7 separate regions of the Homo sapiens genome follow, and all the other regions are linked to region 6. Evidence: fine-mapped expression QTL. A gene starts in region 6. Each other region holds a variant in brackets. All regions are shown on one strand. Distances are between the middles of the regions.

The links.
Region 1: its variant is fine-mapped to the expression of DRC8 in whole blood (TOPMed, PIP above 0.99).
Region 2: its variant is fine-mapped to the expression of DRC8 in whole blood (INTERVAL, PIP above 0.99).
Region 3: its variant is fine-mapped to the expression of DRC8 in cerebral cortex (GTEx, PIP 0.97).
Region 4: its variant is fine-mapped to the expression of DRC8 in kidney cortex (GTEx, PIP above 0.99).
Region 5: its variant is fine-mapped to the expression of DRC8 in fibroblasts (GTEx, PIP above 0.99).
Region 7: its variant is fine-mapped to the expression of DRC8 in prefrontal cortex (GTEx, PIP 0.98).

Annotation. Positions count from the first base shown.
Region 1 is chr1:245,122,227-245,126,293 of GRCh38, reverse strand. It overlaps a transcript of DRC8 not described here. Among named protein-coding and RNA genes, the nearest start is that of KIF26B, 31 kb to the left of the region's middle. The variant T/C (reference allele first, on the strand shown) is at 2,004.
Region 2 is chr1:245,083,928-245,087,994 of GRCh38, reverse strand. DRC8 (dynein regulatory complex subunit 8) reads right to left here. Exons shown (of 8, transcript NM_032328.4): 8 at 158-750. The coding sequence ends at 635. Among named protein-coding and RNA genes, the nearest start is that of KIF26B, 69 kb to the left of the region's middle. RefSeq lists an enhancer at 1,685-2,884. The variant T/C (reference allele first, on the strand shown) is at 1,548.
Region 3 is chr1:245,557,479-245,561,545 of GRCh38, reverse strand. The region is part of intron 5 of KIF26B (kinesin family member 26B); the gene reads right to left. Among named protein-coding and RNA genes, the nearest start is that of KIF26B-AS1, 320 kb to the right of the region's middle. The variant G/A (reference allele first, on the strand shown) is at 1,986.
Region 4 is chr1:245,519,586-245,523,652 of GRCh38, reverse strand. All of the region lies in intron 4 of KIF26B (kinesin family member 26B), which reads right to left. Among named protein-coding and RNA genes, the nearest start is that of KIF26B-AS1, 290 kb to the right of the region's middle. The variant T/C (reference allele first, on the strand shown) is at 2,421.
Region 5 is chr1:245,090,542-245,094,608 of GRCh38, reverse strand. It overlaps a transcript of DRC8 not described here. Among named protein-coding and RNA genes, the nearest start is that of KIF26B, 62 kb to the left of the region's middle. The variant T/C (reference allele first, on the strand shown) is at 2,331.
Region 6 is chr1:244,967,132-244,971,198 of GRCh38, reverse strand. DRC8 (dynein regulatory complex subunit 8) reads right to left here and starts at 1,517. Exons shown (of 8, transcript NM_032328.4): 1 at 1,156-1,517; 2 at 756-870. The coding sequence starts at 780. LOC124900416 reads left to right here and starts at 629. Exons shown (of 4, transcript XM_054328428.1): 1 at 629-873; 2 at 875-944; 3 at 947-4,067. The coding sequence starts at 662. The coding sequence ends at 1,213. It overlaps EFCAB2-AS1 (EFCAB2 antisense RNA 1), which reads left to right and starts at 330. Exons shown (of 2, transcript NR_111907.1): 1 at 330-387; 2 at 1,220-4,067. RefSeq lists enhancers at 1-224, 2,663-3,167 and silencers at 395-484, 495-854, 865-1,044, 1,315-1,454.
Region 7 is chr1:245,680,993-245,685,059 of GRCh38, reverse strand. KIF26B (kinesin family member 26B) reads right to left here. Exons shown (of 15, transcript NM_018012.4): 11 at 665-827. LOC105373265 (a long non-coding RNA gene) reads left to right here. Exons shown (of 6, transcript XR_007066988.1): 4 at 609-2,315. Among named protein-coding and RNA genes, the nearest start is that of SMYD3-AS1, 430 kb to the left of the region's middle. The variant T/C (reference allele first, on the strand shown) is at 1,931.

The DNA of each region.
Region 1 (4,067 bases), 160 kb before region 6:
CATAAAAATGGGCAACCGGCCCGGCGTGGTGACTCACGCCTGTAATCCCAGCACTTTGGGAGGCCGAGGCGGGTGGATCACGAGTCACGCCTGTCATCCCAGCACTTTGGGAGGCCGAGGCGGGTGGATCACGAGGTCAGGAGATCGAGACCATCCTGGCTAACATGTGAAACCTCATCTCTACTAAAAATACAAAAAATTAGCCGGGCATGGTGGCGGGCGCCTGTAGTCCCAGCTACTCGGGAGGCTGAGGCAGGAGAATGGCGTGAACCCGGGAGGCGGAGCTTGCAGTGAGCCGAGATTGTGCCACCGCACTCCAGCCTGGGCGACAGAGCCAGACTCCATCTCAAAGAAAAAAAAAAAAAAATGGGCAACCAGCAGCCCTCGGAGCTGCTCTGCCTATGGAGTAGCCATTCTTTACTCCTTTGTTTTCTTAACAAACTTGCTTTCACTTCACTCTATGGACTCCCCCTGAATTCTTTCTTGGGCGATATCCAAGAACCCTCTCTCGGCGTCTGGATCGAGACTTCTTTCTGATAACAGTCCTACTATCTGTGGAAGCCCTAGGGTCCTGAGGAACTTGTGAGGACAATCTGGCTTCCTGGGAAAACCCTCAGCCCCAGCCACTAACAGGGCAGGACATATGGGGAGGAAAGAGCCTTGATATCATCCCATATGTTGAAAAACAATTGCTATTCCAACTACAGTTGCTTCTGCCTTCTAAGGCAGGTGTCATGATTCATGTGATGTGAAGATCAAGTCCTTGCCTTCCCTTTGGCTTAAAAAGATTGCTGATGGAAAACTGAGAGAATTTGATTGAGTTGAGGCATAGGATAACCACCAAGTTTGTGCAGGTGCTTGCAGCCCTAAGGGGAGAGGTGCAGAATGGGTGGTCCCTTGCTAAGCAGAGGCTTTGGAAATGCCGCAGCAGGAGGTGGGAGAGTGGAATTGCTCTAGGAGGTGAGACAAGGAGCTGACATTGAGCCAGAGAGGGAGAGCCAAAACCTGGGGGAAGGCTGGGCTACAAAGAAAGGACAGAGCCAGGGAGAAATTTCCCACAGCAGTAATGGTGAAAAACACTTTTTTAAATGGGCGAATATCATGGATGCTCGTAGCAACATTTTCGTAATAGCCAAAAAGTGAAAACAGCACAAATGCTCATCAGCTGATGAAGGGATAAGCAAACATGGCATCTCCAAACAGTGGAACGAAGTGGTGTGATCCTGAGTGGGGTCTGTGAAGCACAGCAGGCTTGGCCAGCCACGGTAACCACGATGGGTCCATCGCTGGATGGGACCAGAAAGTGAATACGCCGAGGCATAGGGTTGTAGCAGAGAAAGAGGTTTCATCGTAGGGCCACCGAAGGAGGAAATGGGAGGAAACGTCAAATCCATCTCCCTGAGGAGTTTGGGGCTGGGGTTTTTAAGGGTTTGGGAGTGGAGACTGGAGTGTGGAGATGGTTGATTGGTCGAAGTGTGCAGGGTGGAGTCATGGGAGAGGGAGACGAAGCTGTATTTTCATGCTGATCACATTCCTCTGTGGGGGTCTTCAAACTGGTTGGTGTCGGCTGTTTTGCTGGAATTCAGGATCTGAAAAACATCTTAAGCAAGTCTTAAACAAAAATCTTATGATTCTAATGTCAGAGATCCCATCTATTTTAAACAAAAGCCTTGTGATTCTAAGGTCAGAAATTGTATCTATAGGAACAACGGGGATGCAAATGTTACCTAGTGCTACGTCACTGTTGGTTACAAGGAAGTGGGTCAAAGTGCAGGCTGACTGATGCTTACTTACAACTATATTTCTGTCCAGAATTCTTCTTAATCCTGTGAGGATGGCTCACCATATCGTGCTCAATCATGGTGCCAAAATGCCTGTCCTGGGGCTGGACACCTAGAATTCCCCTCCAGGCCAAGTGACGGAGTCTGTGAAGCTTGAGAACGTTGCCACTGTCAGCAAGCTGCGGTGCTCATACCATGAGAAGAGCCTGATAAAGGAGCCTG[T/C]CAGAAGACCCTCAGGGGACCACCTGGATTCCTACCTTATTCACTGGCCAACAGGCTATTTTTCCTGTTGGATGGGACAGACAACGTGGTACCTAGTGACACCAACTTCATGTCACATGGGTGGCCACATGGAGGAGCTGGTGGATGAAGGGCTCTGAAAGCTTTTGGAATCTCCAACTGCAGCCATCTCCAAGAGATGGTAAAGAAACCTGGCTTAAGACCAGGTGTGGTGTCTCAGCCTGTAATCCCAGCACTTTGGGAGGCCAAGGCGGGAGGATCACTTGAGCCCAGGAACTCGAGGCTGCAGTGAGTTATGATCATGCCACTACACTCCAGGCCTGAGTGATAGAGTGAGACCCTGTCTCTAAATATATATATATATATATGACAGACAGAAAAAAAGAAACCTGGCTTAAAAACAGTGGTTAACCACAGTGAGTGCCACCTGCACCCACCTCAGGAGAAGTTAATCCAGGGCTGCCAATCCAAAGGCAAGGTGGTGACTGCCTGTAGTCCCCTCAGCTCTCGTGACAGGTCTGGGGGATCCCAGCACCAAAGCAATCACAGCCAAGCACAGTAAAAAAAATAAACAAATAAAAACGCAGCCCAGGTTCTGATCTGGTTTCCCATGCATAGGAATTTGGTGGTAATTCCTATCATCATTTCGGTGGTGATGCTGGAACGCACTGCTGAAAACTTGGAGGACTTCGACTTTCAACTGAGCAGCCTGATGTGACCACTGTAGTCAGCTACAACAGGAACGGGAGGGTCTGTGTCTTGGTGAGCTGTGCCTCCTGCAAGGATTACCCCTTCAACACTGAGCTTTAAAGCTATAGGTACCTGCTCTTCCCCCAGTGCCTTGCACCTCTTTTTCCTGCCTCAGTTTTTCTAGCAAGTGTAGTATGGCCTGTGTCCCTTAACGGCGGGTCAGCAACCTGCAGACTGGCCAGCACGGGTGTGGTCAGGTTGATGCTGTGTCCAAAGAGCAGTTTGTGTAGACGAGACGTCTCTTCCAGTTTTCTTTGCCCTTTTTCTTGTCCGGCTGGGAGAAGTACATCCTGAATACCCTTTTCCAGCCAAAATGAAGCAAAACCTACGGTCCAAATAGTGCCACTTGGAGTTGCGTTTTGACTGCTGGAACTGTAATCCCTGTAGCCAGTCTCCTTGCCTCAAATAAAAAGTGAGGCTTTTTATTTGTGAGCTTAACAAAAAAGAATGAACTAAGGATATACATTACAACATGGATGAACCTCAAAAGCCTTACACTAAATGAAAGAAGCCAGACACAGAAGGCCACATATTGTATGATTGTGTTTATGTGAAATGCCCTGAAGAGGCAAATCCACAGACACACAGGAAGATTAGCGGTTGCCCGAGGATGACGGTGGGGGAAGGGGAACTGCTATTGGACATGGGGATTCTTTTTAAGATGATGGAAATGCTTTGTAAGTAGATAGGAGTGATAGTTGCACAGCACTGTGAAGATACTAGAATCCATTGAATTGCACACTTGAATGGGGTGAATGTTGGCTGGGCACAGTGGCTCACATCTGTAATCCTAACACTTTGGGAGGCTGAGGTGGCAGGATCGCTTGAACCCAGGAGTTTGAGACCAGCCTAAGCAACATAGCCAGACCCTGTCTCTACAAAAAATAAAAAAAAACATTAGCTGGGCGTGGTGGCATGCACCTGTGGTCCCAGCTACTCAGGAGGCTGAGGCGCGAGGACCCCTTGAGTCCAGGAGGTCGATGCTACAGTGAGCTGTGATCATGCCACCTGCATTCCAGCTGGGGTGACAGTGAAACCCTGTCTCCAGAAAAAAAGTGGGGAGGGGATGGTGAGTGTTGAGGTATGTGAATGACTATTATATAAGCTGTTGTTTGTAAATGGGCTAATATTAAAATTTAAACTGTGTGCTGTCACTTGCTACTAAGTCACTCTGCCTCGTTTCTTCACCCTTCGTTCAAGGTGTACCACATTCAACGCCATGCTTCTGGGTACTTCTAAGCAAATGTTTGGATGAATATGGAGAGAAGAGAACAGCTAGACAAAGCAAGATACAGA
Region 2 (4,067 bases), 120 kb before region 6:
ATCAACTTCCACTCAACCTTCTTTTCTCTAGTTCCAATGATCTCAACTCCTTTAGCTACTCCATAAATGGTGACATGCTGGATCAGCAAATATAAATGTTTACACTAAGTTATTATTATCCCAAATGATATTTGTAATTGGCACTCATAAAAAAATAAATTAGTAATATTTATTTTGATAAATCACCTTCCACACTCAGATTGATGAAGCATTTGTTATTGTTTAAAAAAGAAGCCTTCATTACACTGCTACTCGTTTTCGAGTGGTTCGTTCTGCCCCCTCTTAAGATCTTTACATGCCAAACCTTGGGTAATTAAGTCATTTTCATTTTGTCAGCTTAATTAATTCGAAGGTGACCTGAGTTTTATTGTAGAAAATAAACAACAATCCATTCTAATGTTAAAATGTTTTAAGAATAGTTTTTAAATAAATAGTAATTTATCATTCTGTAAGGCTAGACATACTAAATTTGGTTTAAAGTGTTACGATCATCTTTAAAAACAAAGTGTCTTAAAATAGTTATGTCACAAGGTATTAAATATCACATATAGGAATCCTAAGATAAGATGTGAAATTAACAAGAACAAGCAATTTCTAAAATTGTTCTTTCAATCAGAAATTATCTTTAGAACATTTAATTTTCATCTATCACCATCATTGTTATATAGTCCTTGTAATTAATTGAATTTGATTCTGGATCAATTGCAGCAGACAACATTTCTTCCATTTCCTCTTGAGAAAAAGGCTCACCTCAGAGAGACAAAAAGGAAAATTTATCATTTAGGATCATCTGATTTTTTTCTCTTTCCACTAGCCAGCTTAATAGCCATGGAGCCCCACAAGCTCCCACAGTGCCACTAGTTACGCTCCCTGGAGCTGTAGAGCCAGGACATCACGACAGTCCAGAGGTTCAAAGACAAGGCTATTGTACACCCTGGTAGATTCTGGACTTCTTTTAGCCTGCAGATGTCATAGATCAAGCAACCTCTAGAACACGTCATTTCAGGCAAAACAGTAGGAAGACATACAGACATCATGAACAAGGTTATTTATTTAGATTAAAACTTTTGAAATTACCAGAGGATTAACTTGAAGCCCCAGTATTTGATGAAAGATGGAAGGAAGATAACTGAGTGGTTAAAGCACAAGTTTGGATCCACATGCTGGCTGCCTCTCACGAGCTCTGAGATCTTGAGCAAGTCACTTCACAGCTCCCCACCTTAGCTTACCTGTCTCTAGAATGGGGGTGATAACGACACCACCTGTCACATAGGGTTGTCATGAGAATGAAACGTGTTATGATTTGAATGGGACTTAGAACAGTACCTGGCATAGAAGCAGCAACATGCAAGTGTTTGTTTAAAAAATTGTTCTGAGATCTTCCCGGCTGCTAAACACTGTCTGATGCAATACACATTCCTGGACACTTAGGGACTTCTATCTTGTAGGAACTTGATTCAGTGTGATTTATTTTATCATATGACATCCAGGGCTGTAGGAATGCATATTCTCAAACTAGTGTGTTTGATACTTTGTGGATATTAGGA[T/C]GAATGTGCAAGTAGCTTGAATCCATATTGTTATATAGCATAAATGTACTTAAAAACAATTTGTAGAATTCTGAGACTCTCAAAGCAGCAATTCTTAAGCTCCTATTTTACCAAACTAGTCAACTGCTATTACACTTAGCTGATGGGTCTGTTATATTAAATCGTAACTTAGATTTGTATAGATTTACATCTTACATATTACTTCCAAACATATTGGTTCATATATGTGGAAGGTTTGTAATAATACTTGCTGAGTGAATAATTGAAAACATATGTATTCTTATTTGACCATACCTGTCCTATGCTTAGTCCGCTGAGATACTCAATAGTTGATCTTTAAGTACCATGAACTCTCTGTAAACATACCATTTTCGAAATTATCACACAGCACCTCCAAGTAAACCACGTGGTCGCACTGTCTCTGTATACACTGCGGTCTGTTCTGACCTTTCTGTTTGAGTCAGTCTCATTACCATCATACTCGCCATCGAGGGCAAAGCCTTGGTGGTACTTTGGATTCAGCTCTCAGCTTTGTCGCCTACACTCTGTTACTCATCATGACCCATGGATCCTGCCACAGACAGTCCTATTGTACCAATCCCTTCTTCCCATTGCCATTCCCACTGCCAGGTCAGGCCCTTATTTGGGTGCCCTCAAAATGCTGAAATAACCTTCTAAGTGGCCTCCCTAGTCCAACCTCTTTCTTATGCATCTAACAAACCGACCAGCACCAGAAAAACCTTCTCACAATCACTCACACACCATGTGAGTCATCTGCTCAAAAGCCTGTAATACTTCTCCATCGCCCACAGGATGAATTCCAAACTCCTGAGCCTGGGACTCCACAATTTAGTCCCAGTAAGTCTACTGAAGTTAATTTCCTGCTGTTTGCCAACATTACCCTCTGGGCCAGCTAGGCTTATTTTCTCTCTGAAATAGCATGTTCATTCCTACCTCCCCATTTTTGTTCAGACTGTTTTACACATCGATAATGTCTCCCTCTCATTAGCCCCTTCACCTGGTCTTCATCATCTACTCATTCACTCATTCATTCAACAAACATTTGTTGATATCTACCATGTGTGACAGAATTATAATGCACAAGAGTTTACCTTTGCCCTCAACAATTTAACCATATACATTCTACCATCTCAAAAAACCTATTTTCTCTTTAAGTCTTCCCAAACCAAGTTTTCCAGGCTGGGCCAGCCCTAGTTGATCTTCTGATATTTAGCTTTCTATTGTCTTGTATTGTGAATTATTTTATGTTAGTTTTATTTCCCAAATAAGATTGTAATATCCTTGAGAGAGGAAGTAGATTTAAGTATCATTATACCTTACTACACTTACTAAATATTAAACATATAGTAGGCACACAACAGTAGGAAAATCTAACTGTTTGGGCCATTTTGACTAAATTCATGTTGCCTGATATATAACCTAGGATTTACTTTCTTTAGACTAATCCTCAGGATGAAGAAGCTGATGCTTTGAAAGTCGTAACATCCCCATCAGAATTAATCCCGAAGGTAATTTTAACAATGGCGTCAGAGTTCTTGGGTGGCAGCTGTGACGGCCTTGCCATTCTGACCCTCACTCTCTGTATTCCGCCTTAAGGTGGATGAAGCTGGAATGGTCAAACCAGTTGTGCGTGTAGATGCAGTCTTAGTCTTCCCTACTCAAAATCACTTGCGCTTTTCATTCTGCCTCAAGTGATTAGCAACTCTGAGTCATTCAGGACCCAGTCTGTGAACCAGAGAGCTCTAGCTTTGTATGGGAGAAGGCAAGGGGACCAATATGAGGATGGTTTCAGGAGACTGTCCATCAGGCTACTGACCTTCAGTGTAAACAAATTTACACATCAGCCTAGCAGAGAGAATTCCTAAAGGAAATATGTTGGCATATATATATAAGTGTGCAGGTTTTATGTGTGTGTATGCATATATGTATGATGGGCCATGTTCAAAACAAATATATATGGTTCAATTAACATTAAAAAAGGACATTTTTAGTGTTAAAAATGACCTCAGTATTCAATTGAGGCTACATTATCTGTAACTTCACTGACAGAAAAGCTCTTTAAAAGGGAATTTTTACCAGCACTGTGGGAAGCCAAGATGGGTGGATCACCTGAGGTCAGAAGTTCGAGACCAGCCTGGCCAACATGGTGAAACCCATCTCTACTAAAAATACAAAAAATTAGCTGGGCGCAGTGGCCTGTGCCTGTAATCCCAGCTACTCGGGAGGCTGAGGCAGGAGAATCACTTGAACCCAGGAGGCGGAGGTTGCAGTGAGCTAAGATCGCGCCACTGCACTCCAGCCTGGGTGACAGAGCAAGACCGGATCCGTCTCAAAAAAAAAAAAGCCGGGGCGCCGGGGGGGGGGCGGAATTTTTATATTCTTTATTCAAATCTTCAATCTAGGAAGAGGCCTTCATTTACAGTGATCGATAGTTCATGTTTTCCAGATGGCATATCTTTTATTCTGGAAATGCTCTGAATGCAATGCCTGAAATTATAG
Region 3 (4,067 bases), 590 kb before region 6:
TCAGAACAGTACTCAGTACCCAGCCCTAGGGAAGAATTTTCAAATATCAATGCTGAGTCAGAATTACAGGTAAGAAGTGGTTCACACGGTTCTTGTCACAAAGAGTGACCCAACCTGGCCCCTTAGAAAACAGTTTCCTAACCTAGTTTTTGTGTGCAGATGACTGCCGTTCTCATTTCAGGTTTGCTCCTATCCCAGGGAAGAGGGGAGGTACACACACCAAATGGCTTCCCTCTGTATCGGTAGCTGCCCAGGCTGTTCCCCAAATGTCCAACTTGTCTCACCCACCCACCTACTTACTGTTGATTTGTGCCTGCGCTATTGCTGTTTCATTATTAATAAGCCAAGATGAAGCTGGAAATTGCTTTGTGCTGTTGAATTTCAGCACTGCCTCCTGTCTGTCTAATGCCCCTCGTGATAAACAGCCACCCATAGGCTGAAAAGGTTCCCAGCTCCCAGGTCACCTGGTGACTGGCCTCCGGGGTAGCACTTGTCCTGTCTCTGAGGCACTTTGGTTTCTCCTAAGGGGTCTGGGGCCACCTTCTGTTCCTCACATCTGCACAGGCTGCTATCAGTCAGGTGTCCCATGGGGCTAGAAGGGGCATGGCCTGTATCACACCTTAGCACGGCTCCCCTTAGGGGCTGCAATTTTGGAGGTGAGACCGCCCAAATCCAGAATCTTTTCTCTCCAGAGCACACACACGGGAGTCTGCGGAGGCTGTCCCTGTGCTGTGGGGACAGAGAGTGAGGGGCAGTGATGAGAGTGCGAGGAGCGGAGGGGAGTCTTCAGTGGAGGCAGCTCATTTGACAGCAGGTTTAACAACTTGAGATTTACATGTCAGGCTTCCGTGAGAGGGGAGAGACTGACAGGTTGACAGGTTTGCGTTTCCCACTTTTCCAGAAACTTATGGGGTCTCTGAGAACCTCCGTGAAGTGCGCTGAGATGTTTTCAACCTCCACACTCTGTGAAGGCAACACAAAAGCCAAGTTCCCGCTTTGCTTTTTTTTCTAACATAATTAGGAACCGAGAGTATCATAAGGAGATCAACACCCAGTAATCTCTGAATCTTAAAACAACCGCCACAAATGTCATGGCAGAATTAAAATAAAGTAATACCATAAGGTACATTTTTATCTCACAGGAAAGAAAGAAAATAGCAAGCTGTCAGGCAGCACTCCACGCATAGCTCAACAAGTCTCTCTCCTCTCTCAGGAGAATGAAAACTCCTGAGAGGCCGGACCTATGTCTGGAGGGTATCTGGGTCTCCTTCCAAAAGGGAAAAAGTCCCTGGCCAGTAGCAGATGTTCAATGAATTGAAGCGAATGAGCATCTATGTATCCACATGAATAAATGCAAAAAGGGGCAAGTAAGATACAGCCCCTTTCATCCACAACTCACGGTCTGGAGTAGGGGACACAGGCACAGTGCCTGGAGAAGGGACAAGAGGAAGGCCTGCAGGTGGCAGGTGACACGGGAGCTGGGCCTGAGGACTGAGCAGCGTGTTTCCACGCCAAAAAAACGAATGAGAGACGAGCATCCCTGGCAGAGACGACAGCAGATGAACAGACAGGGAGGCACGGGAGGCACGTCGGTAACATGTGATGCACCACTGAAATCTGTCTGGAGCCAAAACATTGAAAATACTGATTGGAAAAAAAAAAAAAATAGACCTACAGGAGCAAAACAAAAAACCTTGTTAGGCTGGGTGTGGTGGCTCACGCCTGTAATCCCAGCATTTTGGGAGGCTGAGGTGGGAGGATCACTTGAGTCCAGGAGTTCAAAACCAGCCTGGGCAACATAGTAAGACCCCCCATCTCTACAAAAACAAAAATAGGCTGGGCACGGTGGCTCACGCCTGTAGTCCCAGCACTTTGGAAGGCCAAGGTGGGTGGATCATGAGCTCAGGAATTCAAGACCAGCCTGACCAACATGGTGAAACCCTGCCTCTAATAAAATATACAAAAAATTAGGCAGGTGTGGGGGC[G/A]TGCGCCTGTCTCCCAGCTACTTGGAAGGCTGAGGCAGGAGAATCGCTTGAACCCGGGAGGTGGGGGTTGCAGTGAGCTGAGATCGCACCACTGCACACCAACGTGGGCGACAGAGCAAGACTCCGTCTCGACAAAAACCCAAAAACCAAAAAAAAAACCTTGTTACTCACCGTAGTAAAAACAGAATTCCTTAAATTTTAATTAATTAATATTCTATTTTTGAGACAGGGTCTCACTCTGTGGCCGAAGCTGGAGTGCAGTGGTACAATCACAGGCTCACCGGAGCTTAGACTTCCCGGGCTCAAGTGATTCTCCTGTCTCAGCCTTAGCTAGGATTACAGGTGTGTGCCACCATGGCTGGCTACTTTTTAAATTTCTGTAGAGATGGGGTCTCCCTACGTTGCCCAGGCTGGTCTCAACTTTGGGCTCAAGCGATCCTTCTGCCTTGGCCTCCTAAAGTGCTGGGATTACAGACATGAGCTACTGTGCCTGGCCAAATTTTAATTTAAATGCCACGTGTCCGCACACACAAAGACTGAGAAAACACACGATGGTGTTCAGTGTGCATCATATAACAATGAGCTGTTTTTCTTACATAACTGACAAGAACTCTGCCTTCACTCCGGTCAAGGATTTGAGAGCATCTCCTGTAATACTAAATTGCCTAGACAGAAAAATGCATTCAGTCACTCTCTCCCCATCTTTTCACCACTTCTTAAGCCCAAAGGTTGGCGAGATGCTGGGTCTGAGGGGCTTCTGAGTGAAACAGTGTCATGTATTTTGCCTTTTGCAAATAAATGAGTTTTCCCCGACGTTATGTTGTCCAGGTAAAGAGTAACTGAAGTAACTCAAAGTGAACATTCAGAGAGGGCAGGCAGGATGCCCTGTCCCCGCAACCTTCTGAGCTCTGATCCCTGTGGCTAGACAAACATGTATCTAGCACCTTCCTTGTCCAGGAGGGACCTGGTTCAAAGAAGGACAAACTCTGCACAGAGAAATAAATGCCCACTTAGAGCCCAGCATGGCAAGAGGCCTCAGGGGCAGGAGGGAACTTCCTTGGGGAAGCGGGGTGAAGGGATAACATCCAAATTAAAGCTTGAAGAAGAAGGATGAATTCAGAGCAAAGGAGGAAGATGGGGAGGGCCCTGCCCGGGCAGGTCAAAGGCCCGAAGGTGAGAGAAAGTGTGTCCTCTTTGCAGCACCAAAAACTACTCACTGGAGTCAAGGGGGCAGGCGAGAGAAGCAGGAACTAGAGGCCAGGGAGCCAGCCCCCTGCAGCCTTGGGCTGGGGAATTTGGACTTTGGACTAAGGGCAATGGAGAGCAAGGAATGGGGGAGCCATGTGACCAGCTAAACAGGAGTGGAGTGAATAATCTTGTTTGGAATGGAGGCAGGGTGGCCGTGGGCTTCTCCAAGCTCAGTCCCCTACAGAGTCCCCTACTGAGCCTGGGAGTCACTCCAGTCCTCCAAAGAGAAATCTACGAGGCTGTAGTTGATCACCCACTGGCCCTGTGTCTAAGCAGTCATCCGTTCCATACTGCTCCAGCTTTGATGCCAGGACCCTACTTTTCTAAGAATCAAGGGCGTTCGCAGTATCCAGGATGGATTTCTCGCTCCTGAAACCCAAGGTTGCCAGTGACCAGCCTCCTAGTAACAGCTGCTATTCCCCCTCAGTTCTACCCTCTGCCTATTTGAGCTTGGAGGGCTGTTGACTAAATGCCTTACCTCTAGTTAGAGGGACATGCCCTGAGATTGGCCTCAGTTTGGACCTTTAGCCAAAATTACTGTAGCTCACCTGTGCTTCTTCCCCTTATAGGTTTAAATCCTAGCTGGAGACCTAAATATGGACTCACCTCACCTGATACCCATCTCTTGAACAGGCGTCTGAAGCTTCTGCACCCATAGATCACTCTGGAATTTTAGTCCCAGCCTCTCCTGGTCTGGAACATCCCACCAAGCGCTGAGCTCCTAGGACCAACAGAAGGAAGAGGTGCTCCCACAGCCCCAAACCGGGCCTCATACCCCACTTTCTCCAGCACAGTTATTGGAGCCTCACAATTACCCTCTGAGGAAGTATGATT
Region 4 (4,067 bases), 550 kb before region 6:
AGCCCAGGGAGCTTGTTTGCCCCTTCTGCCATGTGAAGACACAGCGAGAAGGCACCATCTGTGAACCAGAGTGGGCCCTTACCAGACACTGAACCTGATGGTCTCTTGATCTTTAACTTCTCGGCCTCTAGAACTGTACAAAATAAACTTCCGTTGTTTATAAATTTAGACTATGGTATTTTTGTTATAACGACCCAAAGGAACTAAGACAGGTATTGTCTGTGATTCTAGATTATCTACAGATACTCTGTTTAACTCAATCTAGAGTAGAGAATTGCTCAAGGGCACTTTTAAGCTGATGACTTCAACAGGGCTCATAAAGTCTAAAATGAAATGTGATTGGAGAAAAGAATTGTGTAAATTGAGAATATGGGACCAAATAAATGCTTTAGCAAGCATTTATTTAGTAATATAGTACTTTAGTATTTCAGAGTTCTCCCAAGAGAGGCAGAAAAGAGAAATAGTCAAGCGTACAGGATGCGAAGCCAACTGTGTGGTTTCAAATCTTCTTTCTGACACTCAGAGCTCTGTGGCCATGGTCAAGTTCCTTAACTTTCCTGTGCCACAGTTTCCCCAGCTGTAAAACAGGATGGTAAGAGTAGCTAGCCTCATGGAATTGTTGCAAAGTTCAAATAAGATTATCAGAACAGTTCCTGACGCAGAGTAAACACCTGGTAGGTGTTTGCTCCCATTATTGTTAAAATAAAACATTAATATGAAAACTATATCCTAAGTGTCTCCGTTTAGACATTTTTTCTTAGCAGCTTCTTAGAATATGAATCCTAAAGAGCAAGGTGAAAGGGATGCCTTTGCTGTAAGCCCTGCTACATCACAAGTCAGCTCTGAAGATTTCCCCCAGACCCTGTCGACACCACAACTGGCTGTAGAATATTGACTCCCATGTCAGTTTCAGGTCCTGGACATCCTGAATATAAGTTTTGGTTGTGCAGTTGGCTGGGAGGGTCTCGTTTCTAGTCAAAAAAGGACATTCTCAATTTGAGCTGATAAACTGGGGTCTTCCACAGCCTTAAATCAGCTGTCAGGGAAATCTCCTGTTAGTGCAGTTGCTTTGCCCTGAAAACCACCAGCTGAAACTAGATTCTTATGTCAACCATGTGTCTGCAGTTTTTGTGTGCTGGAGGCAATTACTTACTTGGTAGTTCCTCCTCTGACAGTGTGTCCCCATGCCAGATGAACAGGGACAGGACAACTGATTGTCAACCTCACCAGGATGCTGTAGGCAGTGTTCTGAGGCACTTAGAGAGCATGTGCGCAAAATCAATACATATGCAAAACAAAATGCTGTGTTAAGCTAACTAACACAGCTGGCCCACATCTAAATTGGGCATAGGCAGTATCATTTTCTTTAATGCACTGGAAATAAGTTGTGCTGGTCACAAAGGCTGACAGAGCCTGATTGCTATGTCCCTCATGCCCCCAGGCATCTACCAGCGTGGTCCATGGTCAAGATGAAAAATGGACCAGGCCGGGCGCGGTGGCTCACACCTGTAATCCCAGCACTTTGGGAGGCCAAGGCGGGCAGATCATGAGGTCAGGAGATCGAGACCATCCTGGCTAACACGGTGAAACCCCGTCTCTACTAAAAATACAAAAAATTAGCCGGGCATGGTGGCGGGTGCCTGTAGTCCCAGCTACTTGGGAGGCTGAGGCAGGAGAATGGCGTGAACACGGGAGGCAGAGCTTGCAGTGAGCCGAGATCGCACCACTGCACTCCATCCAGCCTGGGTGACAGAGCAAGACTCCATCTCAAAACAAAAAAAAAGAAAAATGGACCAAAAGGGTACAAAAGCACCTTACCGCTTCTTACAATGGGCTGTAATTATTTGTGTCTTCCTCACAAGACTGAACATTTCATAAGGTCAGGAGCCATGTCTATCTTTCCTACAACTGCATTCCCCAAAATTGCCTTGTCTATAGTGAGCACTACACAAATACAGACGGATGAGTGGATGGTCAGAACTGGCTCAAAATCACTGACACCACTGAAGAAGTAAGCCTTGTTGCATGTCTTCCCAACAGGGTCAGCCTGGGGGTCCTTCCAGTCTTCCCAGCCACAGAATGGTTTGGAAACATTGGTCTAGGTGGAGGTAGACTTATACTCAAGGATTGCGCTAGCTCAGAGGTTTTACAAGGCTATGGTTTGGAATATATCTGGATGTATAAGTATCTAAATATTTTCCAAAACAAGCCTGTCAGATTATATTAACAGACTCTTCATCATCTATAGGGAAGATGGTTATTTTTATTGTATAGAAGCATGAGATTCTGTTTATTGCTTTTTTTTTTTTTTTAAGACGGAGTCTCGCTCTGTCACTCAGGCTGGATGGAGTGCAGTGGTGCGATCTCGGCTCACTGCAAGCTCCGCCTCCCGGGTTCACGCCATTCTCCTGCCTCAGCCT[T/C]CGGAGTAGCTGGGACTACAGGTGCTCGCCACCACACCTGGCTAATTTTTTGTATTTTTAGTAAAGACGGGGTTTCACCGTGTTAGCCAGGATGGTCTTGATCTCCTGACCTCGTGATCCGCCCGCCTCGGCCTCCCAAAATGCTGGGATTACAGGCGTGAGCCACCACGCCCAGCCTGTTTATTGCTTTTTAACGGGTACAGCACAGTCCAACCTCTTAAGCATTCCCCAGGTTCACCAGTATCCTTGCTTTTCTGCCTCCATATCCACACCAACTAAAATACACCCTACAATGTTACAATGACATCATCTTATGGGTTAGGATTTCAGCTTATGAATTTAGAGGGAGACACAAACATTCAGACCACAGGGAACATTCATCCTACAATGTTCCCTAAGGGAAAGGCATGTGGTCCGGGCTGATCATTAATAGGGAAAGGCATGTGGTCAGGGCTGATCATTAATATTGCCCTTTCTGATGTAAGTTCCATGAGAGTGAGGCCTTTTATTTTCTTAACTGCCAGGAATGGTGCATGCTATGCAGTGGATACTCAATAAACACTTACAGAATGGATGGATGGATGGATGGATGGATGGATGGATGGATGGATGGATGGATGGGTGGGTGGGTGGATGGATGGATGGATGGATGGATGGATGGATGAATGGGTGGATGGATGGATGAATGGGTGGATGGATGGATGGATGGATGGATGGATGAATAGATTGTGTTTGTCTTTAAGGTTTGCTGACTTCTTAATGATGACAACACGTAAAATATTTCTTGGTATGGGTTTCTTCAGGCTATCATGTTCATAAAACAAATACAATTATTGTGTTCATTGTAATAATTGTTCCACATTATCATTAGTCTGTGTCCAACATGTGTTTTCCCAAGCCTCTGGGAGAGGGGTTTTTTGAAGTTGCCAGTCAAAGCAGATATGCTCACTGTGTTCTCTATGAGTTAAAGGTTGTAGACTTGTGCTTCATAAGGACAATTCCAAAAGTCAATTTGATTCGATTATTTTTTTTTTCCTATTTCTGGCCTTTAGAAATCACTTGCTGCCAGACTAGCTGGGGAAGGGCTCTCTCTCTCTCTCTCTCTCTCTCTCTCTCTCAGTTAGTTGAGTATTTAATTTTAGTTTACACTACGAAAATTTAATTTTTAAAAAATGTAGATATTTTTCAAAATTATATTTTCAGGGTAATTAAATCAATGATATTCTTGTACTTGAACAATATGTTCTTATTAGGCTATCAACTAATGACAACAATTCAACAATTCAATTTTAAACTTGTTCTGCATTTCTTCAAAATAAAAACATGGGCTAAACCAAATACAGTCATGCACCGTATAACGTTTCAGTCAAGGACGAACCACATATATACTGGTGGTCCCATAAGATAATCTTATTTTTACTGTACCTTTTCTGTGTTTAGATATGTTTAGGGACACAAATACTTACCATTGTGTTACAAATGGCTACACTATTCAGTACAGCAACAGTCCTACCCTCTAGCCTAGGTGTGTAGGAGGCTATACCATCTAGATTTGTGGAAGTACACTCCATGATGTTCAAACAACAACAAAATCACCTAATGATTCATTTCTCAGAACACATCCCCATCATTCAGTGACACATGACT
Region 5 (4,067 bases), 120 kb before region 6:
ATTTATATTTATGTTCTGTGTTAGAGTTAAATCTCATTGACATCTTCCTGGGGTCCATACAGCAGAAATGCATGTACCAGGAATGCACGTATCAGGAAGGCAGGCGGCTGTCCTGAAGGAAGCTCGGGGAGCCTTCGCTCGTGTACTCATTCCACCTTGCTTATTTCCGTGCAATCACTAACCGTACAGGTGGCCAACTGAGTGAAGGATTTGCAGATGTTATTTGGTTTTAATGACACCAGTCCTCAAAAACTGATAAGAGGCTTAAAAAGTTCCTAAAAAGTAACCTCGAATTGAAGATATCCCAACACCTAAGCACAGGGGGGTTTTCCGAGAACAGTGGGGCCGACAATTCCACCAGGATGAGCTCTTCATCATGTTGTGTAAGAACAAAGACAGGCTAATCGGATTTGATAAAGAAGAACTAAGAAAACTTAAACATTATCAAGACTAGTTGGAAAATAGACTTACCTCTATTCTCATTAACAGTGAGCTTTGCCTAAGTGCGGATCATACCTTGAGTTAGTAACCAGGAATGGTTACCAGCCAGCAAGACAGTTTAAAACTAGGCATTCAGAGCATGGAAACACATCTTGACATGTTTAAAAGCTGTATTTAAAGTCATGCAATACTCACCTATACTTCAGTACATTTCCTAAGTTTGGTGATAAATGCTTAGAAGCCTCTTTTGAGATTTCTTACTAATAGCTGAAAACTTAATGCCGGGGCGTGTGGGGGGAGCCAGCAAGATATATTTGGCATTTTGACCTGCCACACATATAAAACCATGGCCCGATTTTCATAGTGTGCTATTTTATCTTATCTCCTTCTCCACAGAACTAGGTTTGGCCTCAATTTTTCAACTTGTGATTTTTCTTTTCTTTTCTTTTTCTTTCTTTTTTTTTTTTTTTGTGAGATGGAGTCTTGCTCTGTCGCCCAGGCTGGAGTGCAGTGGCACCATCTCGGCTCACTGCAACCTCTATCTCCCGGGTTCAAGCAATTCTCCTGCCTCAGCCTCCCGAGTAGCTGGGATTATAAGTGCACCACCACGCCTGGCTAATTTTTGTACTTTTGTGGAGACGGGGTTTCACCATGTTGCCTGGGCTGGTCTCATACTCCTGACCTTAAGTGAACCGCTCACCTCAGCCTCCCAAAGTGCTGGGATTACAGGCATGAGCCACTGTGCTTGGCCTGATTTTTCTTTTTTAAGAAAAATAACAGTTTCTTCAAATGATTAAGAGTGTTTTCTCCACTAGATGAGGTAAATAATTCCTGCTGCTCTAAAAGTACCATGACTGATAGCACATTTTTAAAAGAAGAAAAAAAGAAACCTCTTAAGGCCTCCTGTTTTCACATTCTAGAAATAAACTTAACGCCTTATAATTAATAGCACCATGACAGCAAACCTCGGCTATCTCCCCACCAGCAGCCCAGGTATGCGCACGTTCTCTCCAATTAGTTTTCTATTATTTACCTACTTCCCCACCTCCCTGTCCACACCCAGGCAGCAGATCTCCATCCCTGCCCCTCCCTCTCTCTTTTTCTCTCTCCCTCTCTGCCTAGCTGGCTTTCTGTAAATAATTATTTGTGTCATAGCTTACAGCTTTTTAAACATTTTCACTTTTATTATTTCATTTAATTTTCACACCAGCCCCGAAAAGTGTTTTTTCCACTTTACAAATTAAGATGCAGAAGCTCAGCAATATTTTTTTATTTTTTTGAGACAAGGTCTCTCTCTGTCACCCAGGCTGAGTGCAGTGGTACAATCATGGCTCACTGTAGCCTCGACCTCCGGGGAAGCTCAGCAATATTAAATGTCTGGGCCAATTACGTAATCAGTAAGCAGCAGAGCCTAACTCCAAATCCCACACTTTCATTCAATATCAGAGCCCCAGGTAGTGCTTTTTACACACAAGCGTGCATAAGGATCCCCTGAGAATATTAAAAATATAAGTTTCCTGGACCCTACCTCCAGAGATTCTGTTTCAGGGGTCTGGAATGGGGCACACCTCCCATTTCTAACACCCTCCTTCCAGATGCTCCTGAAGCAGATGATTGGCAACCATGCTTTCAGAAATAGGCAGGCCTAGGAGGCAGCCACCATGCCTGGCACCCATGAGGCTCTCCGTTTATTTAAGCAGCCCAGGAGGGTAAGGTAGTGACACTGATCTTCAAGGAACTGTCTGTATAAACAGGGTACTTTCTTACATGGAAGGATTTAGAAAAGCGAAAGGAAGGAAGACAGGAAACTAGGAGAGAGAGATCTAAACACATTCCATCCCACAGAAAATACTCCTGCCCTTAACGAACAGTCGTAATCCCAACTAGCC[T/C]GCTATCTTGGACTCTTTTTTGTCTCTTGGGCATTTGGTACTTAGACACTGGGTGACTGCAAAGGGGACTAAATCTCTGCATTGCTTCTCAGGAGGGAGAAGGACTAGAGCTGGGCTCTCTATTTTACAGACAGAGGTGCACAGGAAGTGAAGCGCCTGATCCAGAGTGAGTCACACATGAAGCTGGGATCAGAGCACAAGATCGCCAGACTCTCAGGCCTGTGTGTCGGGTCCTGAGTCATGCACCTTCCCCAGCAGTGTGAGAATAGAGATGGCTTTCCACAGGGCCCGGCCAAGCTGTGGGGTATGGCAGGCTCTGCGGAAGCCAGGAGTCATGAGGGTAAGCAAACTTCCTGCACAAGAGGCCAAGCACTCTCCTAGTCGGGAAATGGCATATGGTGACTTACATCAGATGCTGCGGGCGAGGTCAGTGAGCTGAAGAGGCAAAATACACATTGAAGTGATTTGAGTGTAAAGGAAAATGTTCCCTTTGCAAACAAGGTACGTTTATTCTGCAACTTAGGAGATAAAATGAGATTTCTGTGGGGAGTCTATGTTGTGCTTTCTGGTGGCCTTAAAAGAAACAGACAAATTTGTGCTAAAGATAAAAATGAATTACATTCCACAAAGCCAACTCTATGAGACTAAACAGAGAGGATTGCCTTGAGACAAGATGTGAAGTTGAACATCAGTCCGAACTTTTGAAAGAACCCTCGAAGGTGGGGCTGGGGAGGTAGGCAATCTCGACGCAAGCTTCCTCTACTGCCTTCTGTGCAAGAGGGTGTCTCCTCGGAGACAGAATATGATGTCATCACTTGATCATCAAGAGATTAGGGTTCATTCACCAGACTGTACTTCTTTAATGGCTTACAGGTCTTAACGCAGAGCTGTCCTGTATGCTCCAAACAAGTCCGTGCCTGGGTCGACGCACTGGGCGCTAGCACACGCCTCAGTGCTGCATGTCCGTGCTGGCCCCTGCCACCGAATGACATGCCCCTGGGTATGCGTCCACCTTGAAGGGTATTTCATATCTCAGCCATCCTCCTTCCCCGCTGCAATGTGTTCCTATCATCAACAGCCTGTCTGCTGATGTTCCGAGGATCACCACACTCCTTTCCTCCTCCGTCTCCGCCCTGTCCTGAAGGCACGCGGTTCATCCTCATCTCTGGCTGGTGATTCTAGCATGCACGGCCGAGCCAGTGGCACATCAGGTCTCTATTTGGATTTTACCTTGGGAAAATCTCAGGTTATCCTGGGGAAAAAAATGATCTTGGGAAACTAGAGAAGGAAGAAATGCCTTCCATTCTTACCACTGCTGGAATTATCTGTCAGGAAGCCTTCCAGAAGTGACGATTCCTCACCACCGTTTTTACTCACTATTTTTTGAATGGGATGACCACATATTAATCATCTAAACTGGAACATTTCTAAGAGTACAAAGGAGACCTATTAATAATTACACTGGGACAGGTATAGTCTGGAACTACCACGGGCAAAGCAGGACAGACGGTCATCCTACCTCTCTAGGCCATGAGTAGGACAAAGACACGTAGGCCAGAGTCCAGGATGACCCCAGCTGACCAAAAAAAAAAAACGTAAACAGAAATAAGCTTCATTCTTGCAAACCTCTGACACGTGGGAGTTTTGTTATCACAATATAACCTAGAAAAAGCTGATACAGCCACTTACTGCTGTGTAACTTCTTGATTGTCACCTTTCTAAAATGGGGATAACTTA
Region 6 (4,067 bases):
AGACACTAGGCCAATTGCGCGGCGCTAGCCGGCGGCGGGGCAGGCATTTCGGAGGACCGGGAAGCTCGGAGGCAGCGGCTGTGACCTCCAGACCGTCCTCCTGCGTCCTCATTAAGGAGGCAAAATGGTGGCCGCGAACGCCATCAGGCTGCGCCAGCGCGGGGTTTCGGCGCAAACAGAGGATCCCGTCAGATTCAGGCGGCCAGAACTCCTCCTCACCCAGGCCACCCCCCGGGGCCCACAGCCTGGACAGCTACGGGCGTGGCGCCTGCGGCACCGAGACCCCAGGCGAGAGTGTGGAGGCGGCGGCGGCTTCCCCGCGACCGTGAACAACGACGCCATTATCAGCACCCCCTGCCGGCGCCTCCGGCGCAGCCCGCGCAGGATGCAAGGCCCGGCCTCCGAGGGAGGGGGAAGGAGGACGGGGCGGGAGGAGGGGAAGAGGGTGAAGAGGGCGGGAGGAGAAAGAAGAAGGCGGGAGGAGGGGAGAGAGAAGAGGGAGGGAAGAGGGGAGAGAGGCGGGGCGGGGCGGGGGAGAGAGGCGGGGCGGGGCGGGGCGGAGCGGCGGGCCGGGCGGGCTACGGGGACGGGGGCAGGGCGACTGCTGCTGCCGGGTGGCCCCCTCCTCAGGCCGCCCTTTCCCTGCGGGTGGGAACTCCAGATGGACGAGGGCCCACCCCACCCGGCGCTTCCCCGTGCAGCCCGGGGTCGCGGCGGGCGGCGAGGGCAGCGGCTCCCCGGCTCCCCTACCTTACCTTCCCTGTCCTTCTCGTCCGCCATCTTGCTGCGGAGCCGGTCGCCTGGGAGATGCCTAACGATAACCTCGGCCGCGGTGTCCCGGCCTGCTCAGCGCCCCGCGGCGAGCCTGGCCTGGAGGAGGGGCCGCTCTGAATCCCGGGGGAGGAAGACCCTTGGGCGGGGCGGGGCGGGGAGGAGGCTCCGAGCGCGCGCCCTGTCCCCGTTTCGCGCCACGACCCTCGCGCTGGGGGAAGACCAGAGGCCCCGTCTGCCACCCGGCCCCCGGCCTTGTCCCTCCAGACCCGAGGCCGGAGCCGGACTTGTCCCGGGCCTAGCATGTTGCTTCATCACACGGTCCCCAACCCCTCCTTTCCCTTATTTCTCATCCATTTGGGGACAGCACGCGCGCGCACACACCCCTCGCCCCCTCCTGTCCTGTTTGTGCGACGTGGCGTTGCTCGATTTTTGTTGTTAACTGCAGATTTTGAAAAGCGCCGGAGAGCTAGGTGAAGAGCTGGGCTCCCAAGGGGGTGATAGAACCAGCCCGCGGCCCGGCCTCCTCCTCCCGCTTCCCATTCGCAGCCCGCCTCCCGCCGGGAAGCGGCCCGGCTGCTGCAGAACGGCCGCGCCTGCCCTCCCGGTTTCTCCCGTCCAGTCTTCACCGTCCTTTCCCAGAGAAAGCGACAGCACAGCCTATGACAACCGAAGCTAAAACGGAAAAACTGGGCCGGGCGCAAGAGGAAACCAGAGCCATTCGACTATTGCTAGAGGAGAGGAATAGCTGCAGGAAAACATGCGCAAAATAGCACAAACATTGCGTCGTCAAGGCTGCAATGTCTAATACAAAATAGAAGGTTCTCATAGCAACAAAAACGTGCCCATGTTGTGCTCAGTATTACATGCGTTAAAATGTTCTTAGTTGTGAAATTTGACATGACCGCTAGTTAAAGTTACAATGGAAGTTTTAAATCCCGCTTTCCGAAAACTTTGCAGCTATAGCATGAAGTTAAATTTTTGTCTTATTTTCTGGATAAGTTTACTATACTGGAACATAGTAAAGCTCTTTTTATAAAGAGCTTTGAATAAAATACCTAATGATGTGGTTGAAACGAACACCTATTTTCAAAACTAATCTTAAGTGGTATTTCAGTGCATATGTTATGTAAAAGCAATTTATAAACTAAATTTTAAGAGCCTTCAAAATACAAGGTACTCGTATTTAATGACTTAACAGTTTTAATGCTTTTATTGTTTCTATAATCTCTCAGGAAATCCTAAAACTGACTATATTTTTCTTTATTAAAATAACTTTTTCTGTAGAAGATACCCATTTGGCGCTGTGATCAGCATTCTACTTGAAATTGAATATAAACAACTGAATCATTACAAAATGGCTCATGTTAGAAGATACTTAAAACGAATACAATCTTGTACAGTAAATGTTTAACACCCCAAAATAACGAAAAGTAATTATTAGCATTCATTTATATCTAAATCTCAGTCAATATGATCTAAATATTTGTGTTTAAAGACTCCCCCTTTCCATATAGATAATGAAGGGCTTTGAAATAAGTGTAGGAAACCCTAAGTTTGGTCTCAGGCTTCCTATTCATTCACTATGCTTTTTCGTGTGCTGTTTACAGTTTCCTTTTTCTGGAATGCCTTTCCCTGCTTTTTTCCCCCGCCAACATTTCAGCTTCCCACAGACACACATTTGTGCCCTCCTGGTTGTCCTGCAGGATGACCTTTGTTTTTGTTTTTGTCTTTTGTTTTTCGAGACAGGGTCTCGCTCTGTCGTCCAGGATGGAGTGCAGTGGTGTGATCTCTGCTCACTGCAACTTCCGCCTCCCGGTCTCAAGTGACCCTCCCACCGCAACCTCCCAAGTAGCTGGGAGGAGCGGCGCGCGCCACCATGTCTGGCTAGTTTTTGTATTTTTTGTAGAGACAGAGTTTCCCCATGTTGCCCAGGCTGCTCTCAAACTCCTGAGCTCAAGCGATCTGCCGCCTGCCTGGCCCTCCCAAAGTTCTGGGATTACAGGTGTGAGCCACTGTGCCTGGCCAGGATGACCTTTTTGAAGTCACCTAGTCATTGAAGCTTTCCCTCTCAGCCTTTTCCTCTGTGGCCCCATGCTTATAGAGCCTCCCACATTGATTTGCAGTGCCTTCGTTCGTTCACTTTATTTCCACCTACCAAACAGTAAGATCTTGAAGACAGAAACGGCATTATTCGTTTATATATCCCCGGTATCTAGTACAATTTTTCTGTTTGCAATAATAAATGTCTTAAAACTTAAGAAAGGAGTAAGTCTTCTCAATGACTTTTTTTAAAAAAGACCCAGATTCAGCACTTATTGTATGTAAGACAGACCTTCCTTTTACATTACATTTTTCATCAGTAAAAGTACTGGGCCAGGCGCGGTGGCTCACGCATAATCTCAGCACTTTGGGAGGCTGAAGCGGGTGGATCACTTCAGGTCATGAGTTAAAGACCCACCTGGCCAACATGGTAAAACCCCATCTCTACTAAAAATAGAAAAATTAGCCGAATGTGGTGGCTCACGCCTGTAATCCCAGCTACTCGGGAGGCTGAGACAGAAGAATCGCTTGAACCCAGGAGGCAGAGGTTGCAGTGAGCCGAGATCCGCCACTGCACTCCAGCCCAGATGACAGAGCAAGACTCCATCCCCAAAAAAAGGTACTAGTATTTCATGTTAATAAAATGGAATTCTTATATAAACATATATAAATTAAAAATTATTTTAAGAGTTGAACAGATTTCTCTGCAAATCCCCCTATATTTTTATATTTTTTAAACTAACTGTATTCAGCAAAGCTTTTTATTATTTAATTTATTCCAAACCACATTAATCAGTATTTCTCTGAACTCCTACAGCACATTTAAAACAGTACTGTTTCTCTAGGTGTGGGTGAGTAAAAAAATATTTAATATATGTTAATTAACTTCCGCATCTCCTGACCCCACTAAGGTTTGAATAGGAGCCTCCCCCTTTATAAACCCTTTTTATATACCCACACTACCTAGCCTAATTGGGGCACATATTAGCTGCTTCATACATACTTTTCAACTGCCTAATTTGCTGATTAGGCATAAAAGTATATAATTCTGGAAAAGTCTCCACAAGGTGAAAATGATTATCCAAATAATAAAGGCCCACAATGCCAGTGAGTACATTATCTGCATTATGCTGATATTTGACTCCTTTCAACTCTCTTTGGTTGTAGAAACATGACCGATGATTATATTACACTTTTAACTCTTTAAATATTATTAGCTTGCTTTGGACTGTGGAAAACTAACTACAATCATT
Region 7 (4,067 bases), 710 kb before region 6:
AAAAAGGTACAAAACAGAGAAGGGGGAAAAAGGCCCCCACCTCAGCAGCTGCCCCTGCCACTGAGTGGCCACGATCATGATGGTTTTCTCAACTACTTGCCACCCTGCCACCATCCTGGCTTGGCCTCTGCCTGAGAAAATGAGCCCAGCGATGTCCAGCAGACTCAGTATCATCCAGAAACCACTGAATTGCCAGGACAAAAGCAGCAGCCAGGGAGTGACTCCTGGACATGCAGCAGGGGAGGGGCCCTGAGAGCAGGGAGTTGAGAACCTCTTTGGTGCCAAGCCTTCGAAGGACACAGTCTCCACCTACGCAGGACCGAGGCCATGCATGAGAAAAACAATATTTTCCATCCCTCCAACGTTTTTCCTCTTGAGGTAGCAATCCATTTGTACTCTCTAAAGCGGACCAAGTGCTTCCGGTCAGGGGTCCAGGCTGGGTGACCAGGGCCAGCACCAGGTGTGGGGAGGTGACATGACTTTGTATCAGCCCCAAGGTTTCCCTGCCCCAAAGTGGACCCTGAGCCACGTGTTGTCAGCTCCAAGTCACATCTCCTGATGCTGGGGGATTGGCAACGTTGATTTGGCTTTTTCTGACTCTGTTCCAGGGCACGGCTCCAAAGGCTCCCTCATCCACCACCCCCCCACCCCGCGAGCTCCTTACCTTCGTCTTCTTTTTCTTCATCCTCAAGACTCTCGATGCAATCTGGATGGTGGACAGGGTCTCCGCGTAGCTCCCGACCGCGGCCGAGATGTGCGCGATCATGGTGGTACGGCAGTTCATGTTCCCCAGAGACTCCCGCAGCAACATGGCGAGCTTGCTCTCTCTGCCAAACAAAGTGAATTAGGCTGCATTAGCGGCCATGCTTCCCTGTGGCCCTCAGGGCAGGGCTTCAGGCCTGCACACGGCCATTTTGTTGTGGGTGGTGGTCCCCCCACCCTTTTTAATGGCATACTAATTAGCATCATTTTCCAGCATGGGGCTATTTGTAGTTGGCAAGCACCGAGCAAGTGCTTCTAACTCCAAGATGGAATCTGTGCAAAGCACCTCCCTTGGCGCTTCTGTCCTGGCTGTGATGGGATGTTCCTGGGCGTGTGTGTCTGTGACATTATACATAATGAGGCCTGGGAATAGAAACAAGAGGAGGGGATCAGGAGAAAGGGCTCTGTGCCTGGTGACTCGGCTTGCTGACTGCACGTGTGGCCTTTCTCCAGGGTTTCCACACACAGACAATCTTGCAACAAAAAGGAGTCCCCCTGCCACGAACCTGGATTAAAGATCGGTGGGTTTTTAATACCTGCACAGTTCCTTTAGCCAGGAAACTGCGGCTACTTTATTGGCATTGTCCCTTAACTCGCATATTTGCACCTAGTAGCACTGAAGGAAAAGGCATTCATATTCCTGAAGACTAGGGGAGAAACACAGAGAGAGGCCCAGCCAGTCACTCTATCCACAACAGAAAGCAGCACTTCCTATAGAGAGGCCTCCTCTGGCAACTGTGCAGGTGCTGTGCGGGGCCACTGCCCTGAGTGGTGATAATGAGGCCCTGGGGTTTGCAGGGAGTGTTGCTACGTCTTTGAATAGACCTGGAGAAATGGCTGGTTTTCTGTTCCTGTACTCGTCCCAGCATTTTTCCTGCCTTGCTTTTAAAGGCCTCTGTTTATTTCATCAACAGCACTCATACTCTCAACTGCTGCCAAATGTCATTGCATCTCTGGCACGTTCCCTGATCCTGAAGGGCTGAGGAAGCCTATTTCCCATGCCGCGTGCTCATATCTCCATGCTGTGTCTGCGATTCCAGATGAGAGGAATTCGTCCCCATGTCCATGTCTCATCACCCATCCCCTGCAAAGCTCCCTGGAGAGGGACTATCCAGCTCAGCAGACACTATGGGAGACTCAGGCCACTGTCAGCAGAGAGCAGACCATT[T/C]TACACGTGACCTGCTTCTGGCCTCAGGGAGGGAAGACTGTGGGGTAAGAGCAATAGCTTTTCCTTCTCATCTGGGATCAATTAAGGTGTAAGTTTGGCGACGCTGGGCTAAAGCTCACTTCCAGAGCAATGTAAGAATATACCAGGGCTTCCCTTCCAGCAAAATGACCAGTGATGAACGTGGCGAGGTAAGGGATATAGAGGAGGAGGAGGAGGAGGAGGAGCTGTGAAAGTTTAACTCCTTCAGAACGTTATCTGTCTAGCAGAAACCCACGGACAGCCGCACTCGACGAGGAAGCCAGGCCCCATTCCTGGCACACATTCTTAGCAGAGACGTTGCACCTGGATGCGTCTTGGGCTCTGTCTTCAATATGCGCAGTGGAGGGTGAGTTCTGCTCAGTTAGGTTGTGATCATATACAGTCAGGTCTTACATGAGTAGTGGAGGGTGAGTTCTGCTCAGTTAGGTTGTGATCATATACAGTCAGGTCTTACATGAGTAGTGGAGGGTGAGTTCTGCTCAGTTAGGTTGTGATCATATACAGTCAGGTCTTACATGAGTAGTGGAGGGTGAGTTCTGCTCAGTTAGGTTGTGATCATATACAGTCAGGTCTTACATGAGTAGTGGAGGGTGAGTTCTGCTCAGTTAGGTTGTGATCATATACAGTCAGGTCTTACATGAGTAGTGGAGGGTGAGTTCTGCTCAGTTAGGTTGTGATCATATACAGTCAGCTCTTGTTATTCATGGTAGCTGTGTTCTATAAAATATTTGTGAACACTGAATTTGTAAATACTGGGCCATTGTTCTTAGGGGAAATACAGTTTGGTGCAAAAGTAATTACGGTTTCTGTCATTTCGATGACTTTTTTTTTCTTTCTTTTTTTCCTAAGACAGACTCTTGCTCTGTTGCCCAGGCTGGAGTGCAACGGCACGATCTCGGCTCACTGCAATCTCCGCCTCCCAGGTTCAGGGGATTCTCCCGCCTCAGCCTCCGGAGTAGCTGGGACTACAGGCACGCGCCACCACACCCAGCTAATTTTTTGTATTTTTAGTAGAGACGGGGTTTCACCCATGTTGGCCAGTCTAGTCTCAAACTCCTGACCTCAGGCGATCCGCCCGCCTCGGCCTCCCAAAGTGCTGGGATTACAGGTGTGAGCCACTGCATCTGGCCCATTTCAATTACTTTTGCACCAACCTAACGTATGGTTTAGGTTTCTGTGAACCTCTGATGACAAAAGTTTCTTCAACTGGTCAATACGTAACCTTGTTAATAAGATGCTTTATTTAATACGTTTCTTCAAAATAATGAATTATATTTGGTATTTCTTTAAAATAAAACACTAGCCAAGAAGGGTTTAATACTTTCCTTCCCTTGGGTAACATGATTGTACATTTCTTTGGTGTCTAGCCTCACACCAATGCTATCTATTACATTAAATGTTCTCATCATCTGATGAATCCACACATTCAGCCACTTTTCATCTCTTCCATGGCTTCCTCATGTACTATAGCTGTTACCTTAGCACTTTCCAGAGTGGCCCCACATACAGATGGGCCGAAGGCGCATCCCCCTGTATCTCCACGTGACCCTGTGTAAGTCCCCAAGAAAACATACCAAAGACCGGCCGGGCGCGGTGGCTCATGCCTGTAATCCCAGCACTTTGGGAGGCCGAGGTGGGTGGATCATGAGGTCAGGAGATCAAGAACATCCTGGCTAACACGGTGAAACCCCATCTCTACCAAAAATACAAAAAATTAGCTGGGCGTGGTGGCGGGCACCTGTATTCCCAGCTACTCAGGAGGCTGAGGCAGGAGAATGGCGTGAACCCGGGGGGTGGAGCTTGCAGTGAGCCGTGATCGCGCCACTGCACTTCAGCCTGGGCGACAGAGCGAGACTCTGTCTCAAAAAAAAAAAAAAGAAAAGAAAACTTACCAAAGACCGGATAAAAGGATGTAACGTGGTGACATCAAGCTGGCTGCCCTGTGCGCTTCCTCTTCCTTTTTCTGGGTGTGTGTATTCTTGATTCATTAACACTAGACCCCCATGAGCACTGTAGCTCCTACCTGAAAGAAGTGTGTCTAACACATGGATTTTCTCCATAAGGCACATCACAGCCTTCCTGTGCTTAGGGACCCTAA